2 separate regions of the Homo sapiens genome follow, and region 1 is linked to region 2. Evidence: fine-mapped expression QTL. A gene starts in region 2. The other region holds a variant in brackets. All regions are shown on one strand. Distances are from middle to middle. Region 1 overlaps KIF25 (kinesin family member 25). Region 2 holds the start of KIF25 (kinesin family member 25).

Region 1 (4,377 bases), 46 kb before region 2:
GACAGCGAGTGCCTGCTGTGACACCTGGTGGCCGCCGCACTGCAAGGAGCTCCTCTGTGAAGCCTGCCCTGCCTGATGGTCTGGCAGGAGTTGGAGGTCCCATCCACATTCATGAGGGTGCTTTGGAATAAAGCCAGGTTTATTGAGTCCACGTGAAACCTGTTTATTTCTAAGCACATATGCATTATAAAGCAAGGACAAGAAACACAGTTTTAGGAGAAAAACTTGTTAATGCATTCAATCCGGCCTCCTCTTCCCCTCCGTTTGGGAGCTGGGCGGCTTCTTTCGGGCAGGGCCTCGCTGGACTTGCCGAGCTCGGATCCCGAAACCCAGGCCCTGCAACGTCTGTGCCAGGTGCCTCTGGCTGGGAGAAATGCAGAGAATCACCAGTAACTTCGCATCGCCTCCTTTAAAATAGAAAAACAACATGCAAGCTGGAAAGAAGAGCAGCATCTGAAAGTGCCAACATGCCAGCAACCAGGGCCCGAGATGGGCGGCTGCAGAGAGGGCCGCCCGGCGCCCCAGCGGGAAAGTGGCCACGTCTGGCAGGTTCCTGGGACGGGGGTCCAGGAGGGTCAGCAGCCGGTCACTAGCGCCCCTCACCCGGGTCCGGGAGGGTCAGCAGCCGGTCACTAGCACCCCTCACCCTCCGGGAGGGTCAGCAGCCGGTCACTAGCACCCCTCACCCCGGTCAGGGAGGGTCAGCAGCCAGTCACTAGCGTCCCTCACCTGGGTCCGGGAGGGTCAGCAGCCGGTCACTAGCACCCCTCACCCAGGTCCCGGAGGGTCAGCAGCCGGTCACTAGCACCCCTCACCCGGGTCCGGGAGGGTCAGCAGCCGGTCACTAGCGTCCCTCACCTGGGTCCGGGAGGGTCAGCAGCCGGTCACTAGCACCCCTCACCCTCCGGGAGGGTCAGCAGCCGGTCACTAGCATCCCTCACCTGGGTCCGGGAGGGTCAGCAGCCGGTCACTAGCACCCCTCACCCTCCGGGAGGGTCAGCAGCCGGTCACTAGCACCCCTCACCCTCTGGAAGGGTCAGCAGCCGGTCACTAGCACCCCTCACCTGGGTCCGGGAGGGTCAGCAGCCGGTCACTAGCGCCCCTCACCTGGGGAAGCTGCAGGCCTTCTACTCACACTCCTGTGTCCCGGGAATTGGGAGGTATGAAGTCAGCCCTAGGTTGAGTCTGCACATGACCCTGAGGGACGCTCAGCCCCCTGGGGCTGTTCTTTCTAGATCTCCCTCATGCCCACACCTGCTGCTCACGGCCCATGGCCCTGTGGCTCCCTCAGGCCCCCCTGGGGCAGGGGCCGTGTGCCCAGGACTTCTCCTCCTGAGGAATGCTGTCTCTTCCTGTTTTTCAGGACCCGTAACGAGGGTTAAGAATTACAGATGAAAACCAAAAACAGTGGAGAAGGAAGGGAGAGCTAAGGGGGAGGAAAAGTGCAGACCCCAGAGGCCAAGGCCAGGGCTCCATGAGGGACCTGCTGGCTCTCAGGTACTGTGTGCCCCACGGTGCCGCCCCTGAGATCACGGGTGGGCTGTGCCCCTGACCCAGGTCGCCCTGTCTCTCTGTTGGGGCTGCGAACTTTGGAATCCAAGAGTACCAGGTGGTCTCTCTCTTAAAGGCAGAATCCAAAAATATGCTCCTGTGAACAGCCCTGTTATTCACCGTGTGGAGGAAGCCAATTTGCCATGAGAGGGGGAAATACCCCACAATGAGAGACAGGGAGAGTGTCTGGAACATTCCAGCCTCCCCGAGTCCCGAGCACCAGCGGCCCCTCCACCACCTCCCAGGGTGGCCCTCCCAGGAAGGAGGAGCCCCCCGACTGTGGTGGCCATGTGCCCCTGCCGTCCTGCAGTGGCCGTTTCTCAGGACACGGCCTACAGGGCCCAGGGCCACCTCTGGGGGACTCTGCCTGCACCCTGAGTCAGGAAGAGCCGCAATGCTTCCTCGGGTCCTCCCTTTCAACCAGTCTGGAGTCTGAGTCGGGGGAGGGGGCACTAACTGAGCTCCCCAAAAACCGCAAAGCCCAGATCCAGCCACAGCTGGATGACTCCACACAGGGGCCGCCTGTGCCCCACCTGGCACTGGTGCTTAATCTGTTGCGTCCAGGCTTCTGGCACCTGCCCCCAAAAGACCCAAGGAACTTGGGGCCTAAGCAGGTCTACACAGCCGGAGGGACCCAGGCCACACATGCAGCAGCAGCCTAGAGAGCCCTCAGCTGCTCTGGCGGACCCCTGGTGAAGAGAAAGGCCAGGGCTGCCACCCTTGAGAAACTGAGCCCCAACCAGGAGGCAAGTCACACACAGACCGAACAAGCAC[A/G]CAATCAGGCCAAGGTGAGACGGCGCAGGAGAATGACCACCGTGCCGTGGGAGTGCCAGCTAGCCACAGCGAGGACACAGGAGGTGCAGGGGGTGCATGGGTGGCCCTCGAGGACGTGCAGGCCAGAAGTGTGTGCACATGTCCTGGGGTACGTGGTCCCCCATCCTGGGGCATTTTGGGGAAAACGGTTACCGAGGCAGTCCTGAAGGAGGTGGGTGAGCCTGCTGTTCCGGTACGGGGCATGGCCACGGTGCTCCAACAAAGCCCCCAGGACGCCTGCCAGGGCCGCAAGGCTGCGGCTGATGCACGCCATCTCCCTCAGGGCCAACCCGGTCACTCCAGACACACCTGGACAGGACCGCCACGCACCATCACCGTTTGCACCAAGAAAGGAGGCAGGAAAAGCAAAACCGGCTCCTTGGGAGGAGCGGCTCTCAGGCAGGTAGAGGGGAGGCCATGGACGGGACAGGCATGAGAGTGAGTGTCTTTCATGGCTCTGCTCACAGCTCAAAGCGAGCTCCTGCTGGGAACTCAGGTTTTCTGTTCCCAGAGGGCCCGTGTGAGGAACACGACTCTCGGGTTGCCGGGGTAAGAGAACCAATCCCTGAGAATGTAACGGGATTTGGAACTCACCTGTGGAGGGGGAAATGCCTGGCTCGCCCAGAGCTTCCCGGGCTGCCTGGTTGCACATCCAGCTCCATCAGATCATAGGCTTCTGCAGCACCCACCCCCCAGGGAAATGCCTGCCCCTGCTCACCAACGCACTCGCTGCCGGCCGAGTCCACGAGCTGTAGTCGAGCCTGCACCTGCTCCGCATGCCCTGCGGGGTTCCCAGGAACCAGCTGTGGAGCCAAGGCCCCTTGAGAAGCTCTGCGGCTCCTTCCTGCCCTTCCTGCCTCTGTTTGCTCCCTGGGGAGGGTGGCACTGCAGGCTTGGTCTGCTGCAAGGGACCAAGGAGCGACGAGGAGGAAAACAGTTGCATGAAGCCATGAGGCTGTGCTTTGCCTCAGTCAGAGCCGAGAAGCTTCTGAACTGCACCCTCCTGCCCACACCTCCCACCCAGTAAGAAGTGGGATTTCCGCAGAGGTCCAGGGGATAGTGGCTTCTCTGGGGGAAAACACAAGTTAGAAAGCAGCTTTCTTCACTGTGGAAGGTTGAACTAATGCCTAATTGGCCCAGAGGAAATCAAATAATGCTTCTTAGGAAGACTTGGTAATCATGTTAATTAAAATCCCACTCAGAAAATCTATGAGCCCTTTTAGAAATAAATTCTACAATCTGTTCGATAATCTTCCACACAAATCCTAACAAAAGGGCTCTTAATTTTAATGCAAATGTCTTTGTAGTGTGTTATTCCTAAACAAACTTCTTAGGTTTTTTAAAAAAGCAAAATAACATTTATTCACTGTGCAAAACATAGAAAGTATACACAATTTTTTTTAAAGGACATGAAATCCGGTCTTATTCCCACCACCACTGGCAGCCACACCGCCCCTGTATCGGGAGCGTTTTTGGTAGAGATTGTTGGTGTTCCCTAAACATCACACGCCTGTGCCTTTCCAGCCCCTGCGGTACAAGGCCGTGTGCCCAGCTGTGGCCCACTCTGGGCTGGCCAGGGGCTATTGTCAGCACCTCCCCGTCACCTCTCCTTCCCTTGCCTGAGCAACCTTGGAGGCCAAATGTTTCAAGTGCCACGGTGGCAAGAAGGATGGGGAATGTTCAGCCACACTGGCCTTCAATATGAGTGAGAAATGGCCTTTCCAGTGTCAACCCACTGAGACCAGGTTTTGATGGGACTACAGTCTCATGTTCCGGCCCCAGACCCGTGGCTCTCCAGGTGTGGTCCCCGGAGCCGCATCCTTGCAGAAACGCACACTCTGGGTCCAGTCCCAGCCCTGCTGAACCTGAGCATGGGTGGTGTCTGCTATTAGTTCCCACCACCTGCTGCAGGGAATTGGACGCAGCTCAAGTTTGAGAGTTGCAGCCCAGGCTTCACAGGCCTGTGTTCTTTCTGTTACATAACTGGAATCATTTTATATACTACATAGTTTG
Region 2 (4,377 bases):
AGTAGACGGCATTTAAAATTGTGCCACTCCTCTGTCTTTTCCCTGAGCACACAGACATACACACACCGTGCAAACACAGGTTACCTGCTCTGCAAAACTGGATCGTCGGATTCACTATCAAAAGGCAACAAAGGACGAATCCGACAGTGAACTCTGATATTTCGTTTCAGCTCCTGCAATGATCAAGAGGTCTGCGTGTCAACCCGGGCGCGAGCCTGCACTGCGGAGCATCCCCCACTGAACGTGCACCGGGCACCAGCTCCTGAGACGCGGCCGTGAGATCTGCAGCACCTGTCTCCACTTCGAAAGACCCCTGCAGGGTAGTGAACAGTTATTTTATTTATTTATTTTTTGAGCCAGAGTCTTGCTCTGTCGCCCAGGCTGGAGTGCAGTGATGCAATCTCAGCTCACTGCGACCTCCGCCTCCCAGGTTCAAGTGATTCTCCTGCCTCAGCCCCCAGAGTAGCTGGGATGACAGGTGCCCACCACCACGCCCAGCTAATTTTTGTATTTTTAGTACAGAAGGGTTTTTACCATGTTGGCCAAGCTGGTCTCGAACTCCTGACCTCAGGTAATGCGCCCGCCTCGGCCTCCCAAAGTTCTGGGATTATAGGCATGAGCCACCGTGCCCGGCCATGAACAGTTATTTTAAACTTCTGGATTCATACTTCACAAATGTGTTCACTTGGCAAAGGGGTATCCCTTGGTAATAAGTACCAAGGAAAATCCCTTTGAATGGCATCCTGGGCTCGACATTTTAGGCATTTTAGAGGGGATTTTGGAAATTCAGTATCTGTCATATTTCCTTGATTTAATGACTGGAAGGAAATTAGAAGCTTTTTATTCTCATAAACTCCACTGGTTTCCAGTGAGCAACACATCTTCTCCGTATGTGCTCAGAACTTGCCAAATCCATTCTGAAATCTTGTCTTGGATCCACAGCAAGTTTATCCACCCTGTCATGCTGAGCAGCTCCTTCTACATTTTGAAAACCAAGTGGGTGTCATAGGCCAATGATTTACAGCCTCCGTCTGGTCTCTATGAACCCACAGAAGCTGGGATCAGCCTCTGCCTGCATATTCTCCATGGGCCGCGCACTGCACGCTCCTCAGCTAGACCAGGAGACCAGGCTTGAGGTGGAACACTCAGAAACTTCCACAACCAATTCTTCCTTGTGGGACTTGACTCCATCTTAGGAAGGTTCATATTATCTTTTTCATGCTCCAGATTAAAAAAAAAAAAAGCTGCAGCGTAGTGAGACTTTCTGAAGTGCCAGGTGCTTCACTGATATCTCCCTTTGTCTTTATAGCAACCCAGAGAGGTGGTGCTATTGTGAAGATTAAATAAGAAAATACACCAAATGGTTTCAAAAGTACTTGGTACACAGGAAGCACTCAATAAATGTTCTCTTATATCAATGTTTGGAGCACTGAACTACATAAGTAGATGCTTAAAATGAGAATTATTCTTTGACACATCTAACAGCTGGAGAACCTCTCGGCATGGCCAGGGAAGAGAAGCTTCGCAGGAACACTGGCTTCGTGGGCCTCGGGCAGGTGGAATTCGGAGAAACTGGCCAAAGTGCAACCATCAAAATCAAACCTCACAGAAGCGAGGGTCACCCACTCAATCATCCACCTTGGCATCCTCGTGTTGCAAAATCAAACCCTGAGACTTTACATTAAATTTCATGGGATCTCAGGTCTCATACCTTCGACCAAGAAAGCACGAGAGCCTCTGGGTCTTGTTAATGGGCAGTGAGAGACGTGGGTGGAAGGTGCTGGTGAGGAAGGGGCAGGGGCAGGGGCAGGGGCAGTCTCCACCGGCATCTCCAGTTACAGCAAAATCCTTGCTTTTCCCGCGCAAGTCCCCATCTCTGCAGATTCCCCCGCCCCCCATCTCTGCAGATTCCCCCGCCCCCCATCTCTGCAGATTCCCCCGACCCCCCATCTCTGCAGATTCCCCCGCCCCCCATCTCTGCAGATTCCCCCGCCCCCCATCTCTGCAGATTCCCCCGCCCCCCATCTCTGCAGATTCCCCCGCCCCCATCTCTGCAGATTCCCCCGCCCCCATCTCTGCAGATTCCCCCGCCCCCACCTCTGCAGATTCCCCCGACCCCCCATCTCTGCAGATTCCCCCGCCCCCCATCTCTGCAGATTCCCCCGACCCCCCATCTCTGCAGATTCCCCCGCCCCCCATCTCTGCAGATTCCCCCGCCCCCATCTCTGCAGATTCCCCCGCCCCCATCTCTGCAGATTCCCCCGCCCCCAACTGCCCGCTACAGCTCTTTCCTTGTGCCTCACAGCAGCCGGTCCCACTTCCTGCATCGCCACCAATGTGGCCCAGGCCACCAGCCCCCGTGACACTGCAGCCATCCCCTTTGCTCCCCGTCGTGGCCTCCCGACCGAGCAGCCAGAGTGACCCCGAAAGCCTAAATCAGCCTGCGGCGCCCTCACCCGTCCTCCAGCTGCCATCGCCTCCTGGGTGAAGAGGACGCAGGTCGCAGCCCCCGCAGCTCTGCCCCTCTGCCCTCCGGCCAGGCCGCCCCGCTGTCCCCCTTGCTGTCCACCTCTCTGTCCACCCCTGCTGTCCCCCCCCGCTGTCCCCCCCGCTGTCACACCCCCGCTGTCCCCCCCCCGCTGTCCCCCCTGTTGTCCCCCCGCTGTCCCTCCCGCTGTCCCTCCGGCGAGGAGGCTTCTGCACGTTCTGCGTGGGCCTCTCCCCGGGGCCGCCCCAGGTCTCCCCTGACGCCCACACCCACCACCAGGCTGTTGTGCGGGACCTTCCTTCTCTGCCTCTCCAGCTGGTGACGCGCACTGACGTCCTGCAAGGCCCGCTCCAGGTGCGCCACCTTTGACTGGCATGCTGAAAGGACAAAGGGACGGAGGCATTTTACCGGAGAGGACATCCATGGGGCCCAGCAGGTCAAATTCCTTTCTCTAAGTATGGGAGACATTTTTAAAAATAATGGAGTCCTCCAGGGCCGGCTGCGTGCTGTGGCCTGTGCTCCTCACTGCTTTGGACCCAGGCTGCGCTGTCTCCACCACGACCAAGGACTCACAGAGCTCGCCTGGGGGACCTGGCCCCACAGTCACCCCGTCCGTCATCAGCCTCAAATGCCATCAGCCCGTGAATGCTGCTCCATCGTCTGCATGGCAGCCAAGGAGGTCTCTGCTCCTAAAGCACCTGGGAGCCCTTGGTGAGGGGGGAGTGGGGCAGGGAAGGAGATGCTGGGGCCCAGCTCTGCTGCTGTGGATTGTTACAGTGGCCTGGGCCTCTACTCCCGCCTCTGTCCTACCAGGATGGTGCCAGGTGATGTGGCGATGAGTGGGCATCGCGTGGGGGCCTTGGACGAGCGTGGACACCCCAATCCCCAGACTGGCCATTGCCGTGGAGGCAGCGTGAGTGTGACATGGAGCTCGGTGTCGTGCTGCAGAGGACGCCTCGCGGCTGTACGCGTCATGATAGCCAGGGACCCCTCCACATGTCACTTAGCCAAAGGATGCAGCCCAGCCTGGGGCTTTCTACCCCAGGCCCGAGGACCTGCAGGGACAAGGACCCCTCAGCGCAGATGCAGCTCTCATGAGGCCTGAAACCAAGCTGGACTTGCAGAACTGCGCACGCTCCCTTTCTGAAAGAAACACCCGTTACCGGGTCCAGACTGAATGTGGGCGTAAGAAAGCGGGAAGGGTCCCCCACAGCAAGAGAGAGACCCTCCCAGTCACTTGGTCATCTGAGCCTTGAGTGTGTCCGGCCCCAGCCACCAGCCTGTCCCCACTATCCCTCTTGTCAGCACGGCTGAAAGGAGCTGCCTGGGCACCTGAGGTGGCTGAGGCTCATCTTTGAGGAGCATGGAACTCGAGGGGAGAAGTCGCGCCCCCAGGGAAGCCAGGTAAGGAGGCCCCGAGCCCCTGAGCCTAACGCCTGGGCACAAATAAGCCGCCTGGGGACCCCTCTGTGTGGCAGGACTGCACCGTGGCTCCCACAGGCAGGGCCTCAGCAGGCCCTGCCTCCTCACACGTCAGCATTCCCTCTGCGGGAGAGCCTTGGCGGCTCCCTGCTTCTCCCTTTGAGTTTCACCTTTTCAAAGCTTAAGTACACTGCTTTTCACAAAATAACATGATTGTCCCTTTCCCTGGAGCACATGGCTTATAAGAACACAGGCGTTGCCGGCTGTGGTGGCTCGTGCCTGTAATCCCAGCACTTTGGGAGGCTGAGGCGGGCAGATCACCCGAGGTCAGGAGTTCGAGACCAGCCTGGCCAACATGGTAAAACCCCATCTCTACTAAAAATACAAAATTAGCCAGGCGTGGTGGCAGGCGCCTATAATCCCAGCTACTCGGGAGGCTGAGGTGGGAGAATAGCTTGAATCCAGGA

What was found. PIP is the estimated chance that this variant, and not a neighbour inherited with it, causes the effect.
Region 1: its variant is the best candidate, but not a certain one, in a credible set for the expression of KIF25 in vagina (GTEx, PIP 0.74).

Annotation. Positions count from the first base shown.
Region 1 is chr6:168,040,857-168,045,233 of GRCh38, reverse strand. It overlaps KIF25 (kinesin family member 25), which reads right to left. Exons shown (of 13, transcript NM_030615.4): 11 at 3,083-3,265; 12 at 2,518-2,673; 13 at 143-407. The coding sequence ends at 238. LOC105378135 (a long non-coding RNA gene) reads left to right here. Exons shown (of 3, transcript XR_943283.2): 3 at 1-40. Among named protein-coding and RNA genes, the nearest start is that of FRMD1, 36 kb to the left of the region's middle. The variant A/G (reference allele first, on the strand shown) is at 2,326.
Region 2 is chr6:167,995,028-167,999,404 of GRCh38, reverse strand. KIF25 (kinesin family member 25) reads right to left here and starts at 1,734. Exons shown (of 13, transcript NM_030615.4): 1 at 535-1,734; 2 at 85-313. KIF25-AS1 (KIF25 antisense RNA 1) reads left to right here and starts at 2,328. Exons shown (of 4, transcript NR_103750.1): 1 at 2,328-2,499; 2 at 2,804-3,167; 3 at 3,302-3,892.